Regions from separate parts of the Homo sapiens genome. Here region 1 is linked to region 2. A link means that fine-mapping ties the variant in region 2 to the expression of a gene that starts in the linked region. Tissue or cell type: transverse colon. Region 2 holds a variant in brackets; the other region holds the start of a gene. All regions are shown on one strand. Distances are between the middles of the regions.

Region 1 (8,073 bases), 170 kb before region 2:
CCTGGGTTGTCCCTGGCTTCCTGGCCTGGCCCTGACACCCCCATCCAGATTGTAGGGGGATTGGAGGGTGGGGTCTCCACATTCCAGCTGTAGCAAGGCCTGCAAAGAAGGTTGGGTTAGACCCTGCCCCAAACCCTCTATGGTTCTCCATCATGCTTACCCTCATAGCCCAACCCTTGCCTGGCTCACAAAGCCCGGCAGGTCTGCTCCCCGCGCCCCCTCGGCTTCTCTGACTTCACCTCCTCCACTGCTCAGTAAAGCAAGGTGCTCAATAAATGTTTGTTGAATGACTAAATCCACCCCCAACACACACAGAATTTCAAGGGCTGGGATAGGGGAGAGGAGGCTGGGGAAGACCTTCCAGCACCTGGAAGTGCAGGTCCTCAACAAAGACCCCATGAAGCCAGCTCCCTGCTGTGGTTGATTGTTCTCAATGACAGGAGACAGGAGAGGGCCCCAAGTTCTCGGGCCGCACCCCTTGAGCCGGGCCGCCCAGCACCGGCCGGGTGGGCGCCCCCTGGTGGACAGTCCCGAGGCCGCAGCCTGCAGGCGGCCGCCCTGTGCATTGCTGGCCGGCCTGAGTGGGACAGAGCTGGCCGGCGGATGTTGCTCTTGGCCCCTGGACTGTGGAATGCAAATTTTGAAATAAGAGCTACCAGATGTGAATACACACGATAAAGTGTGTATCAAGGTAGCAAAGGTCATACCCCAGCCACGTGGCGGCGGGCCCCTTCCCGGCCCTCAGAGCCAATCCTTCCCTTCCCATCCTCCAGAGACCCAGGGGTCTTCTCCCTTCGGCCTCTTGCCAAGGGACCCTGGACCCTTCCCTCTGTACCTGAGACCTGGAGCAGAACAGGACAGGAAACCTTCACCTTCAGGCCACCCCCAATACCACAGGCGTGAACCAGACTCACGGACATCTTGAGGCAGGAGAATAGCAGAGAAATTCGGGGGGCGAAGGGGACCGTTGGACATAGGTTAGCTTAAGCAGAAGCAAAACGTGTCAAATGGCAGAAGCAGGACATGCGAAATAAGGGAGGAAGCAGTGAGTTGGAACATGCAGGATAAGGAAAATAAGCCAGAAGGACTTGCAGTAGCAGTTTGGCCACGAAAAATAAAGCTAAAGATGAGCAATTTGGTCAAAAGAGATAAAGAAAGATTAGGCAAGGATGAGCAACTAACTTACAAGAGATAAAGTGAGGTTAAGGAAGTGATGAAAAACATATAAAAGGCCATGAAATGTACGGCCGGGCGCGGTGGCTCACGCCTGTAATCCCGGCACTTTGGGAGGCCGAGGCGGGCGGATCATTTGAGGTCAGGAGTTCGAGACCAGCCTGGCCAACATGGTGAAACCCCACCTCTACTAAAAACACACAAAAGTTCGCCGGGCATGGTGGTACACGCCTGTGATCCCAGCTACTCTAGAGGTAGAAGCAGGAGAATCACTTGAACCCGGGAGGCGGAGGTTGCAGTGAGCTGAGATCGCACCACTGCACTCCAGCCTGGGCGACAGAGCAAGACTCCATCTCAAAAATAAAAAATAAAAAAAAAATTTAAAAAGAGTCCTTTAAAAAAAAAAGGCCATGAAATGTAACAAACTGGGGCTGATCTCATCTCGGAGAGCTCAGTCCGCTCTCCCCTCTGAGAGTGGAATACTGTGCTTCATAAACGTTTGCTCCTTTCCTTTGCTGTCTGTGCGCGTCTCATCCAATTCTTTGTTTTGGACACCAGGAGACTGGAACTGCACAGTACCATCCAGTAACAATCACACACGTGCACAAACACACACACACACACACACACACACCATGCCCTGGGGAAGACAGAGAGACAGAAACAGAAAAGCTGAGAGACAGGCAGTGAAGAGCATTCAGAGTCTAAAACATAAACACTGAGAGAAACTCCAGAGACAGTGAAAGAGACAGAGACAGGGAGAGGAACCGGAACACAAATGGGAGAGATGAAGTCAGAGAGACAATACAGAGGAGAGAGGCTGGGCACGGTGGCTCTCGCCTGTGACCGCAGCACTTTGGGAGGTCAAGGCAGGAGAATCACTTGAACCCAGAAGTTTGAGACCAGCCTGGGCAACATAGTGAGACCCCATCTCTACAAAAGAAAAAAATTAGCCAAGCATGGTGGCAGGTGCCTGTAATCCTAGCTTCTCAGGAGGCTGAGGTGGAAAGACCCCTTGAGCCCAAGAGGTCAAGGCTGCAGTGAGCCAGGATCACACCACTGCAGTGCATCCTGGGTGGCAGAGCCAGACTCTGTCTCTAAAAATAGATATATACATACATACACACATACATAGATGATAGATCCATAGATAGGCAGGTGATAGATAGATGATAGTTGAGAGAATTGTGGATAACCCAGGGATGGACAGAAAGCCAGGAGGAGCAGAAGAGGAACGAGCAAGGGTGGGCGAGATGGAGAGATAGCAATGGGGCTAGTGTGAGTCACAGACAGCTGGCAGGCAGAGGGACCAAGGGGCAGAGTACAAGAGGCTGTCTAGGAGGCTGGAGACCCTTGGAGACACCCGAGAGAAACATGGGAGGCCAATGGTGTCCCCAACACAGACACCAGCCACACCAGGCCCAGCAGCCCCACCTGTGCAGTGGTTCAGCACAGTGGTAGTGTTGAGCATGGCAGGGGTAGCAGTCAACGTGTACGTGCCATGGCTGGTGAGGGCACTGGGTGTCTGTCTGTCCTACTGCAGCTGGTCTCACCATGTCCTGCTGACAGGAAACTGGACCTCTGGCAACATCACTGGCTGCACTCAGCCCCAGCTCCCAATATGCCCCCACCTGCCTGCTGGCCCCCACCCTAGGCCTGGTAGGACCTCAACTGCTGACCTTGCCCATAGTGCTGCTGGCCAGTGAGCGGGCCTGGGAAGCAAACTCATGATGTCAGGTTTAAATCCCTGCTTCAGGCAGGAGAATCAGCGCGTGCGGTTCTAGGTACTGAGCCGTGGTCATTTGTTACATCAATTTCGGGAAACATCCTGGCTTCCCAGAGCAGACCCCCGAGGGTGGGGGTCCAAGCAGAGACTGAGGCTGTCACACCCGGTGCTCCCCTACCCAACCTGAGACCCAGGGTCCCCGCTCCGGCCAACACCCTTCCAGAAACAAGGGGACCCGGCCCAACCTCTGCCTCCCACAGACACCAGGGGTCCCAGTGCCTCAATAAAACACCCTGGGGGAGACTGCGCCCTGTTCTCCCGTCCCCTCCCGTCCTGCCACACCCTTCCCCCTCTCCTCCCTCACTCTGCTGCTCAGGATTCTATGAGCCCCAGGATTTCGGGGGTGACCCTCCAGGAGCCAACCCCTCCTGCTGGCTGGAGACCTCGGCCCGCACCAGCCCCTTTGGGAGCCTCGGTTTCCCCTCCTAAGGTGCTGGGCTGAGCAGAGGGAGGGAGGCACAGGTGTGTCTGAGGGTGGGTGGGCAGATGCAGCCCAGCTCCCCTCCCTCCCAGCCCCCTCCCCACGGCTCCAATTAAGGGTCCTCCACGCTCAATCGCTGCATTTGACTTACTGGCGGCCTCGCCTCCCGAACGAGGCCTTTGTTCCCTTAATTGGCCATCTCCAGGCACCATTCTCTGCCCCCCGCCGACGCACGCCAGGTCCATATCCCAGGTCCAACTATGCGCTAATTGGGCACTTAGAGGGCCCCAGAAAGCCCCCTCCCCTCCCTGTTCCCTGCCTTCCTATATTAGCCCCCACCTGCCGCTCCCTCAGACTTCAGGTCGGGCTCCTGGGAGGTGGGGACAGGGTTAGGGCACAGTGGGGAGGCCTTGGCCCAATTCCCAGCCCTGCCTCCTCCCCAGCCCGGGGTGCCTGGGCCTCCAGAGTCCCCTGCCCCTCCCTGCTCACAGATTTGGGGGGTGCTTTGGTCAGCAATATTGTGGGGAGTTACTCCAGACCACCCTGGCCATGCACCCCGGGGTCCCCGAAGGCCCTGGGGTCTCCGAGCCCGGCCCCCGGGAGCTGTGTGCCTTTGTGAGCGGGGCGGCCGCCCACATGCTGCGGGCCCTGCAGCCCCGGCGCACCCGGCCCCCCAAGAGGCGGCCCAACCACAGAAGGTTTCTGCACAACCAGATCTGCAGGTGAGGGGGCTGGTGGGGAAGGTGGGCACGGGACGGGGAAGAGGGGAAGGAGCAACCAGCACCCTTGGCTGGGGGAGACCAGGTACAGACAGAGAGGAGCAGCCCCCAGGGCTGGATGCCAGCAACAGTCAACGTGCATTTATTGAGTGCCTACTGTGTGCCAGGCCAGTTAGCAAAGCAGATAAAGTTCCTTGCTGTCGTGGAGGTTGTGTTTTCATGGGGGTGGCGGACGGTCAGGAATCACCAAAATAAATAACTAGCACGGTGTGATGCGACCACATAGGTGACCCTTGCAAATATGCTGGCCGGGGGTGGTGGCTCAAGCCTGCAATCCCAGCACCTTGAAAGGCCGAGGCAGGAGGATCGCTTGAGTTCAGGCGTTAGAGACCAGCCTGCTCACATCTGTCTTTACAGGCAGTTCACCAAGATTGAGGCTGCCACCCAGCGCCTGGCCCTCTCCATCCTGTCCCAGGAGGCACCTCCCCAGAGACCCTCGCTCCAAAAGCCACCCCCACCGCCTCCATCCCCCTTCCTGGGAGTGGCCTGTGCTGTGGCCCCCACTGAGGCTCCCCATGCCAGCGCCAGCCTGAGTCTCGCTGCCCTGGACACCTCTACCCTCGACCTCTTTGACAACATTGCGCTCACCCCAGAGTGTGCCTCAATGCCATGGGACCCCTCCTCTGGTTCTGATGCTCCCCTGCCAGCGCCGGGTCTGTCCCATCGCGACCTGGGCCAGCTGGACCTGAGGCAGGTCCCACATTTCTGCGGCCCCCTGCCCCTTCCCCAGCATGCCCTGGGGGAAGAGGCTGATCTCGTGGCTCCCGACTGGGGTTGGGTGGACTGCTGGGAGGTGCCTCGTGCCTGGGATTCTCAGGGGATCCCCGAGGGTTGGGGGACCAGCTCCCCATGAGGCCAATCACAACCCAGCCCAGAACCCAGGACAAGCCAGAGGCCCCTCCACGACGGCTCTACAGCCCTCTCCAGGAGCCCCCAACCTGTCCACTCCCTTCCTGGCAGCCCCTGGGAAAATAAACCAACCCAGACCCCCACTTCAGACCACTGCCTCAGGGGTCTCCTCCTGGGCCCAGGGGCCCCACCTCCACCTCTTCTTGCTTTCCTGCCTTCCCCCTTCCTTCTGCCTAGCCCCATCTGGGCATCCACCCCTCACTCTCACCCAGGCTCACCTCTGCCTAATGTCTGCTCTCCTGTCATTTATTCCCAAAGATGTATCGAGCGCCTACTATGGGCCAGGCCCAGGTCTAGGACTTGAGGATTCAGCTGTGAACGAGGCAGACGGGACCCCTGCCTCAGGGAGCTCCCTGTTCTGTGTGCATGTGTGTGTTTTGGCGGGGAACAGACAATAAAAGAGTATATCCATGCATTTTTCAAAAAGCAAGATTCATTTCCAATTCAGATTGGAGTTAGTGCTGAAAAGAAAATAAAACACAAGGCCGGGTGCGGCGGCTCACACCTGTAATCGCAGCACTCTGGGAGGCCAAGGCAGGCGGATCACTTGAGCCCAGGAGTTCAAAACCAGCCTGGGCAACAGAGTGAGACCTCCATCTTTACAAAAAAATTAAAAAATTAGTCAGGTGTGGTGGCGCATACCTGTGGTCCCAGCTACTCAGGAGGCTGAGGTGGGAGGATCGCTTGAGCCCGGGAGGTTGAGGCTGCAGCAAGCTGTGATCGTACCATGGTACTCCAGCCTGGGTGATAGAGCAATTTTTTTCTTTTTTTTGATGTTTCAAAAAAATTAAAAACAGCGACCTGATGGAAGGGCTACCTGACACCAGGTGGTCAGGAAAGGCTTTGAAAGCCTGGAAGGTTGGGCCATGGGGAGTCCTAGGATTCCAGGCTGAGGCAGCACACGTGCAAAGGCCCTGCGGTGGGACATTGAGGGAAGAGCAAGAGGAGACCCCTGTGGCTGGAGCGGAGTGAGCAGGGGGAGTGGTGAGAGGCGAGGTCTGCACGGACCAGGAAGGCCGACCATGAATTGGGAGGAGTTTGGATTTATTCCAAGACAGATAGGAAATTCTCTCTTTCTCTCAACCTCCATTTCCAAGCACAGAGTCTAAATTATTCTAAACACCACCCGAGGAGGCAGGTGCTGTACAGATGGGGAAACTGAGGCAGCACAGAGCGCAAAGGACAGGGGGGCGTCAAATTCCTCACTTGATCGCTCCCTCAGCCAGCCCCTTCCTGGAAAGTGCTTGGGTATCTTTGTAAGCCTCCGTTTCTTGAGAGAGGGCCAGGTTTCGAACCGCAGACATGCCTCTACTCTAGGTAAGACCCCTCTCTCTCTCTCCCGGCCTCGGCGGTCTGCTCTGTGCAATGGGGCCGGCCGAGACGCCCTCTCTCCAGCCAGAGTCTGAGCCTTCGGAGACCACCGCGCGACTCCGCCCCGTCGGCCGCCACTCACGCCCTCTACGGCTCTCCATTGGCAGAACGACCTGCTGCCCCGCCCCCACGGCGCCTTTGCGAGCTAATCATTTTCTTGAGACTGACAGCCTTGCCGGCACCGCCCCCCCTGGGGCGGGAGCAAAGCAGCTGCATATGCGGATTGGTTGAGAGGCAGGGGGCGGGGTGAGTTGGTGAGCGCCGATTGCGGGCAGAGGCAGTGGCACATGCGGATTGGCCGGAGAGAGCGGCGAGGCAGAGCATGATGAGTGTCGATTGGACGGCTGGGCCCAAGTGGGCGGAAAACGGACGGTGCAGGGGGTGGGCCACGTGTCCAGCCCTAACGAAACGGTAACCAGCCCTGGGAAGCCCGCAAGAGGCCTCAGCGGTGGCCGTCCGAGAGCCGAGAGGTGAGGGTGCCCCCGCCTCACCTGCAGAGGGGCCGTTCCGGGCTCGAACCCGGCACCTTCCGGGTAAGTCCTCTCTCGCTGCTGGCGCTATTTGGAGACCGACCTTACCGCCTAGCAGATGGGGAAACTGAGGCTCTGCCTGGGCGTCCCGGGCCAAGGTCACAGGACCAGAAGGAGGACTCCACCTGGCCCCGCCAGAATTGGCTGGCCAGAGATTGGAAGCGTCCCCGGGTCGCGCCTGCCGCCTCTGTAACAGCGCTGGGGGGTGGGCAGGTTTAATCCCCATTTCTCCGACGAGAAAACTGAGGCTAAGACAAAGAGAAACTTGCCCAAGGTCACACAGCCAGGAAGTCCGGGCTCCAAGGCCGGGTTTCCGAGACCGGGTGGGGAAATCAACGGCCCTACCCCGCCCCCTGTTGCCGCCCACCTCCAGCCACGCCCCCTTTGGCCTTGGGTACCCTCCACCCAGGCTGAATCTCTCCTCGTTCCGCAGGACACGCCCAACCCTCTCCAGCCCAGACCTCCCCTTCACATCTCTCTCTCTCACACACCCACCCTCACCCCAATTTTTCATCTCCCAAAAACCAGTTCCCCTCCCCGGGATCCCCTATGAATCTTCAGATCATGCCCCTCGCTCGACCAGAAACTGGGGGCCTTTCTCCCCGACTTTCCCCACCGTCCCAGCTGCCCCTTCCTGACTCTCCCCTGTCCCACTGGGCCCCAGCGCCGACCTCCTGCTCTCTGGCCTTTTGCCTCCAGTTCAACCGCACGGCGGGGGCCTGAAGCCATCTTTGTATTTTGCATTTTGAACACTTTTTCTGGAATAATACCACAAACGCAGAAAATCGAACGGTTTGCAAATACACAGCTTAAATAAATATTTATAAAGGGAGCACCCTGGTGTAAACAAGTATCCAAAGAAAAAAGTCAAACATGCGCCACATCCCAGGATCTCCCGCCGTCGTCGTTTCCATCACTGTGGTCCAAGGGCAGTCACTGTCCTGGCTTCTGACGCCATAGATCAGTTTTGCCGGGTTTTGGCTTTATGCCAACCCTTTATTGTATATAGTATTGACTAGACAACTTGTTGCACATTGTCCAGAATTCAGAAGAAACAGAATAGGACCCAGTGAAAAGGCTCCTACAGACTTCCCCGGTGCCTGG
Region 2 (8,073 bases):
CACTGCAGCCTCCGCCTCCCGGGTTCAAGCGATTCTCCTGCCTCAGCCTCCTGATTGGCCAGGCTGGTCTCGAACTCCTGACTTCGTGATCTGCCCGCCTCAGCCTCCTAAAGTGCTGGGATTACAGGCGTGAGCCACCGCACCCAGCTTAAAGACACCTTTCATATGTACTGTGTCATTGACGCGGAACTCATGGCCAGCAGCACTACAAGTCATTCCTGAACAAAGCATGCCCATCAGAGGGGCTTTCTCCAGAAGGGACATCACAGCCTCCCGCGCTTAGGAACACCAGACGGCACTTCAGAAGCACTTGGCTTCATGGCCATTTTAAACAACGAAATTGCCACCAACAACACAAAAATGTGAAAAACGTGACACGAAATAGGTGGTGAAAGGGGGATTGTTTACAGGATGAGAGCTGAAACAGGGTCACTTTGTTTGACCTCAGCCGGAAACCTGCACCTTGGGTGGGCGGCTCAGGTTTCCCCTGCTCTGGGCATGTCTGCCAATGACTGTGAAAGCACCTCCAGGACTATTTTGGGTTACAGATACATTTTGACAGGTAGGCAAATTTGCAAATATGGAATCTGCAAATGATGAGGAACTATTGGAACAAGAATAAACTACTAGGCCAGGTGCGGTGGCTCATGCCTGTAATCCCAGCACTTTGGAAGGCTGAGGTGGGCAGATCACTTGAGGTCAGGAGTTCAAGACCAGCCTGGCCAACATGGTGAAACCCCATCTCTACTAAAAATACAAAAATTAGCCAGAAATAACTTGAACCCAGGAGGTGGAGGTTGCCGCGAAGAAGATCAAGCCATTGCACTCCAGCCTGGGCTACAGAGCAAGACTAAGACTTCATCTCAAAAAAAAAAAAAAAAAAAAAAAAAAGAAGAAACAAAAAAAAAAGAATAAACTACTAATAATAATCATCAAGCATTGTGCCAGGGGCTTCACGTGCAGCATTTATTTAAACCCTCACAGTGGGCTGGGGGAAGTGGCTCACGCCTGTAATCCCAGCACTCTGGGAAGCTGAGGCGGGTGGATCACCTGAGGTCAGGAGTTCGAGACCAGCCTGGCCAACATGGAGAAACCCCATCTCTACTAAAAATACAAAAAAATTAGCCAGGCATGGTAGCAGGTGCCTGTAGTCCCAGCTACTTGGGAGGCTGAGGCAGGAGAATCTTGAACCTGGGAGGTGGAGGTTTCAGTGAGCCAAGATCGCACCATTGCACTCCAGCCTGGGCGACAAGAGCGAAACTCCGTCTCAAAATGAAAAAATAAATAGATAAAATAAAAATGAAAACAAAACCCTTACAATGATAGGTATGATGTGTATTTCCACGGTGCAGATGAGGACACTGAGGTAGGGTGACTGGCTCGCTCAGGGAGAGGGAGCAGGGATTGGAACTCGGCTGGATGGGCTCCAGAACCAGGCTTTTAGCCACCAAGTGAAGAAGGGCTGAGTTCTGAACATTCTTAGCTCGTCTCCAGAGCACCTCGGCTGCTCTCCCCATGGAGTGGTGAGCCCCAGGAAGCCAGCTTGGAGCTGGCCTCATTGCCCTTAGTATCCGTTATGTAGCCTGGTGGTTAAGAGACCAAGGACTGACCCCAGGCCTGCGGCTTATCAGCTGCGTGCCCGTGGGCCAGTCACTTCCCCTCCCTGGGACTGCTGAGGGAATTGTGTGAAATAACATGATCAGAACAGTGCCTGACATTAAAAAAACTGCTTATGGCTGGGCGTGGTGGCTCACACCTGTAATCCCAGCACTCCAGGAGGAAGAGGCGGGCGGAGGTCAAGTTCGAGACCAGCCTGGACAAAATGGTGAAACCCCATGTCTACTAAAAATACAAAAATTAGCCAGGCGTGGTGGCACATGCCTGTAGTCCCTGCTACTTGGGAGGCTGAGGCAGGAGAATCGCTTGAATCCAGGAGGTGGAGGTTGCAGTGAGCCGAGATGGCGCCACTACACTCCATCATGTGTGACAGAGCAAGAATCCGTCTCAAAAACAAACACACACAAACAAAAAAACTTATGTATTCTTTTTCTTTTCTACTTATTACTTATTTATTTATTTATTTTTGAGACGAGGTGTCACTCTGTCATCCAGGCTGGAGTTCGGTGGCATGATCATGGCTCACTACAGCCTTGACCTCCAGGGCTCAAGCAATCTTCCCACCTCAGCCTCCTGAGTAACTGGGACTACAGGCAGGTGCCACCATGCCTGGCTAATTTTTTTTTCATTTTTTTTGAGACGGAGTCTCGCTCTGTCGCCCAGGCTGGAGTGCAGTGGCATGATCTCGGCTCACTGCAAGCTCCGCCTCCCGGGTTCACACCATTCTCCTGCCTCAGCCTCCCGAGTAGCTGGGACTACAGGCGCCCGCCACCACTCCCGGCTAATTTTTTTTGTATTTTTAGTAGAGACGGGGTTTCACCACGTTAGCCAGGACGGTCTCGATTTCCTGACCTCGTGATCCGCCCACCTCGGCCTCCCAAAGTGCTGTGATTACAGGCGTGAGCCACCGCGCCCGGCAATGCCTGGCTACTTTCTTAACTTTCTTTTGAGATGGGGTCTTGCTTGCTATGTTGCCCAGGCTGGTCTTGAACTCCTGGGCTCAAGCAATCCTCCCACCTTGGCCTCCCAAAGTGCTGGGATTACTGGCGTGAGTCATTGCGCCCGGACAACTGCTGATTTATTCTCACTACAGGTGTTCACTGGGGACTTACATGTGTCAACTTTAGGTTTGCAAAGGCAAGCCAGCAAAATGAAATAAAACACACAAAGACAGATGCCCCAGACATCGGCCCTGACCTCAGGGAGTTGATGATACAGAAGGGAAGGGAGATGCCACTCAACGAATTAGGCAACAAAATGCACAGCGACAACTCTGATCGTTGCCAGGAAGAAGGGAGCCTACCACAGGGGGGTCTGACCTTACAGGAGTGGGGAGGAGGAGTGGGGGCAGGGGAAGCTTCCTGGAAATGTGACAACTGAGCAGAGAGCTTGAAGAAGTCTAGATATGAACTAGGTGAGCAACAAGGCTAATAGGTAGCAGAGTGTCCCAGGCAGAAAGGCCCTGTGGTAGGAGCAGGGCTGATAGCCTACGATCTGGCTATATATATATATTTTTAGATAGGGTCTCACTCTGTCGCCCAGGCTGGAGTGCAGTGACGCGATCTCAACTCATTGCAAACTCAACCTCCTGGGTTCAAGCGATTCTCCTGCCTCAGCCTCCTGAGTAGCTGGGACTACAGGCATGCGCCACCAAGCCCGGCTAGTTTTTGTATTTCTAGTAGAGATGGGGTTTCACCATGTTGGCCAGGCTGGTCTCAAACTTCTGGCCCCAGGTGATCTGCCTCCGCTCGGCCTCCTGAAGTGCTGGGATTACAGGTGTGAGCCTCCGTGCCCGGCCTGGTTATACTTGTTATTACAGTATCACAATGCCCTAGAATCAGCTGGTAAACAGTCATTGTATCAAGCCCTCCAGGTGCTCCTGGATGACTTGTTCCTTTCTGGGGTTCTTCCTGGAGACTATCCCATAGTTCTTTTATCTTTTTAACCCACAGTTCTGTGAATGAAAAGGTTAGCTCCCCACAGAGTGGGGGAACTCCAGGATCTTGGTCTGTTGGTTAATGTAGTATCTTTCCCATTACCAGTGAAATATTCGAGAGATGGGCTGGGTTCGGTGGCCTCACGCATGTAATCCCAACACTTTGGGAGACTGAGGTGGGCAGATCACTTGAGCCCAGGAGTTTGAGACCGACCAGGGAAACAAGGCGAAACCCTGTCTCTGTGAAAAATACAAAAATTAGCTGGGCGTGTTGGCAAGAGCCTATAATCCCAGCTGCTCGGGAGGCTGAGGCGGGAGGACTGCTTGAGCCTGGGAGATTGAGACTGCAGTGAGC[C/T]GTGATGGCGCCACTGCACTCCAGCCTGGGCGACAGAGAGAGATCCTCTCTCAAAAAATAAAAATAAAAATAAAAATAAAATAAATTCAGCTGCCGGGCACGATGGCTCATACTTGTAATCCCAGCATTCTGGGAGGCCGAGGAGGGTGGATCACTTGAGGCCAGGAGTTCGAAACCAACCTGGCCAACATGGTGAAACCCCGTCTCTACTAAAGATACAAAAATTAGCCAAGCATGGTGGCAGGTACCTGTAGTCCCAGCTAATCGGGAAGCTGAGGCAGGAGAATAGCTTGAACCCGGGCGGCGTAGGTTGCAGTGAGCCAAGACTGCACCACTGCACTCCAGCCTGGGCAACAGAGCAAGACTCTGTCTCAAAATACATAAATAAATAGGCCGGGTTCAGTGGCTCACACCTGGAATCCCAGCACTTTGGGAGGCAGAGGCAGGTGGATCACCTGAGGTCAGGAGTTGGAGACCAGCCTGGCCAATATGGCGAAACCCTGTCTCTACTAAAAATTCAAAAATTATCTGGAAGTGGTGGTGGGCGCCTGCAATCCCAGCTACTTGGGAGGCTGAGGCAGGAGAATTGCTTGAAGCTGGGAGGCAGAGGTTGCAGTGAGCTGAGATCACACCACTGCACTCCAGCCTAGGCGACGGGGCAAGACTCTGTCTCAAAATAAATAAATAAAATTCATAAATAAATTCAGGAGATGACCTGAGGATGGAAGGTACTGTCCTATGCTCCCACCAGGTGGGATTGATCTAGAAATGACAGGAGAGGTGAGGGCGCCTTACCACGAGCAGGGCGAAGAGGATGACTCCACAGCTCCACATGTCTGCCCGGCGGCCATCATATTTTTCCCCCTGGAAGGGAAGGCCAGTTGTGACTTCATCGCTCCTCACTGCTGCCTCCACCCCTCTCCCCTCTATCCGCCCCTCACTCACCTTAATCACCTCTGGACACGCATAATGGGGGGACCTGAGGGAGAGAGCTGATGTGAGCCTCCAGCCAGCTTCTAAACCCCTGCCCAGGGTCTCGGGAGCCCAGTCCCCACTCACCCGCAGCTGGTCTCCAGGAGGCTGTCCCCCACCTGCAGGGACGCCATGCCGAAGTCTGCAATGCGGATGTTGTTTTTCTCATCCAAAAGCAGGTTCTCGGGCTTTAGGTCTCTGTGGCTGAGACAGCCAGGTGGGACTCAGGCCTCTTCCTTCCTCCCAGGAGGCCCAGGCCCCACTGACTGGCTCTCACAGTGGAACACTTCTGCATACTTTTTGGATTTTTAGGGGATGAGAGACCATTTATTATCATTCATTAATTTTGGTCTTTTTAAAAATTTTTAATTTTTTATCATATGTATGTATGTATTTATTATTATTATTTTTGAGATGGAATCTCGCTCTGTCTCCCAGGCTGGAGTGCAGTGGCATGATCTCGGCTCACTGCAACCTCTGTCTCCTGGGTCCAAGTGATTCTCCTGCCTCAGCCTCCTGAGTAGCTGGGACTACAGGCCGCACCACCATGCCCAGCTAATTTTTGTATTTTTAGTAGAGACGGGGTTTCATTATGCTGGCCAGGCTGGTCTTGAGCTCCTGACCTCATGATCCGCCCGCCTTGGCCTCTCAAAGTGCTGGGATTACAGGTGTGAACCACAGCACCCAGCCTTATTTATTTATTTATTTATTTATTTATTGAGATGGAGTCTCATTCTATCACCCAGGCTGGAGTGCAGTGGCATGATCTCGGCTCACTGCAACCTCCGCATCCTGAGTTCAAGTGATTCTCCTGTTTCAGCCTCCTGAGTAGCTGGGATTGCAGGCATGTGCCACCACACCCAGCTAATTTTTGTATTTTTATTTTTTTTGAGACGAAGTCTCGCTCTGTTGCCTAGGCTGGAGTGCAATGGCGTGATCTCGGCTCACCACAACCTCCCGGGTTCAAGAAGTCCTGGGATTACAGGCATGAGCCACCGCGCCAGGCCTAATTTTTGTATTTTTAGTAGAGACAGAGTTTCACCATGTTGGCCAGGCTGGTCTTGAACTCCTGACCTCAGGTGATCCGCCTGCCTTGGCCTCCCAAAGTGCTGGAATTACAGGGGTGAGCCACCGCGCCCGGCCTATTTTGTTTTTTATTTTTAGAGATGGGCATTGCTTCTCGGCCTTTTGGCTAAGATCAAGTGTATGCTTAGAGATGGGGTCCCTTTCTGTTGCCCGGCCTGGAGTGCAGTACCACAGTCATAGCTCACTGCAGCCTTGACCTCCCCAGCTCAAGTGATCCTCTGGCCTTAGCCTCTTGAGTAGCTGGAGCCACAGGCGTGCATCACCATGTCTGGCTTTGGAAACTTTCCTTTTTTTTTTTTTTGAGACAGAGTCTCACTCTGTCGACCAGGCTGCAGTGCAGTGGCACGATTACGGCTCACTGCAACCTCCGTCTCCTGGGCTCAAGCAATTCTCCTGCCTCAGCCTCCCGAGTAGCTGGGATTATAGGCATGTGCCACCACGCCCAGCTAATTTTTGTATTTTCAGTAGAGACAGGGTTTCACCATGTTGGCCAGGCTGGTCTCGAACTCTTCACGTCAGGTAATCCACCTGCCTCGGCCTCCCAAAATGCTGGGATTACAGGCGTGAGCCACCGCGCCCGGCCTGGAAACTTTTTATAATAGACAATCACAAACGTGCCCAAAACTGGAGAGAAAGTAAGAGGAAGCCTCACTTACCCATCGCCCAGCTTCATCCATGATCATCTTAGGGCCAATCTGATCTCATCTCTGTCCCTTACATACTCCTCCCCAACCCAAATTAGTTTGTAGGACATCCCAGATGTCATATTAGTTTATCTGTAAGTATTTGAATATGTACAAAGTGAGCTATTTTGAGGTAAAGCTGATATGCAGCTGGTTCTTAAAATCCTTGGTTCCTGTCTTGGGACCTTCCCACCCTTGAACCAAACTCCTCAAGGTTTAAGGGTTGGTGTCTGGGGAGAGAGGGAGTGTAGGATTCTGCAGTTTTCATTTGGCCTGGTCATTAACTGGGTCAAACTTGTTAAATACGTTGAATATCTCCCCCTAGAGGCCAGGGTTTCAATATCAGGGTTTTGACAATCTTGTCAACAGGAAGGTGTGGAAAATTTAAACAGGGCCGGGTGCGGTGGCTCAAGCCTGTCATCCCAGTACTTCAGGAGGCCGAGGTGGGTGGATCACCTGAGGTCAGGAGTTCGAGACCAGCCTGGCCAACATGGTGAAACCCCATCTCTACTAAAAATACAAAAAATTAGCCGGGCATGGTGGCGGGTGCCTGTAGTCCCAGGTACTCGGAAGGTTGAGACAGGAGAATCGCTCGAACCTGGGAGGTGGAGGTTGCAGTGAGCTGAGATCGTGCCATTGCACTCCAGGATGGGTGACAGCGAGACTCCGTCTCAAAAAATAAAAAAAGACAAAAACCGAAAATTTAAGTAGGTGGCCTTTTTATCATCAAGCTTTACCCAAAGTCTGAGTCCCTCTACCGTGATCCCCACCCCATCTCCAAAAACACATCTTAGTGAGAGAGATGCGCAAATGAAGGAGGCTAAAAGATGAAGGCATTCATTTTGTACCTGAACAGTTAGAAAAACGTTGCACATTTAATATCTGATTTGGAGGCTAAAGTCAATTCAATGAAAAAAATAATAACTTTTCTTTTTTTTGAGACAGGGTCTCACTCTGTTGCCTCACTGCAGCCTCAACCTCCTGGGCTCAAGCAATCCTCCTACCACAGCTTCCCAAGTAGCTGGGACCACGGGCACACGCCACCACATCCAGCTAATTATTTTTATTTTTTGGAGAGATGGGGGGAATCTCACTTTGTTGCCCAGGCTGGTCTCGAACTCCTGAGCTCAGGTGATCTGCCCGCCTTGGCCTCCCAAAGTGCTGGGATTACAGGCATGTGCTACCATGCCCAGCCAAAAAAAAAATCTTTAAAAGTGGACACATAGGCCAGGCGCAGTGGCTCATGCCTTGAGCCCAGGAGTTTGAGACAAGCCTGGGCAACATAGCAAGACCCTGTCTCAATAACTAAACTAAACTAAAAATAAATGAATAAATAAATAACCCTTACTCAACCCTTACTTCACACCATATACAAAAATTAACTTGAAATGGATGCCAGACCTAAATGCAAGAGCTATAACTAT

The links. PIP is the estimated chance that this variant, and not a neighbour inherited with it, causes the effect.
Region 1: C19orf85 starts here. The variant in region 2 is fine-mapped to the expression of C19orf85 in transverse colon (GTEx, PIP 0.95).

What each region holds. Positions count from the first base shown.
Region 1 is chr19:55,460,411-55,468,483 of GRCh38, reverse strand. It overlaps C19orf85 (chromosome 19 open reading frame 85), which reads left to right and starts at 3,733. Exons shown (of 2, transcript NM_001386794.1): 1 at 3,733-4,102; 2 at 4,517-5,483. The coding sequence starts at 3,930. The coding sequence ends at 5,012. ISOC2 (isochorismatase domain containing 2) reads left to right here and starts at 6,842. Exons shown (of 6, transcript NM_001136201.2): 1 at 6,842-6,972. RefSeq lists silencers at 262-391, 402-631 and enhancers at 3,290-4,012, 4,735-5,457.
Region 2 is chr19:55,291,028-55,299,100 of GRCh38, reverse strand. It overlaps BRSK1 (BR serine/threonine kinase 1), which reads right to left. Exons shown (of 19, transcript NM_032430.2): 5 at 4,968-5,084; 6 at 4,854-4,887; 7 at 4,704-4,772. Among named protein-coding and RNA genes, the nearest start is that of BRSK1, 11 kb to the right of the region's middle. The variant C/T (reference allele first, on the strand shown) is at 3,909.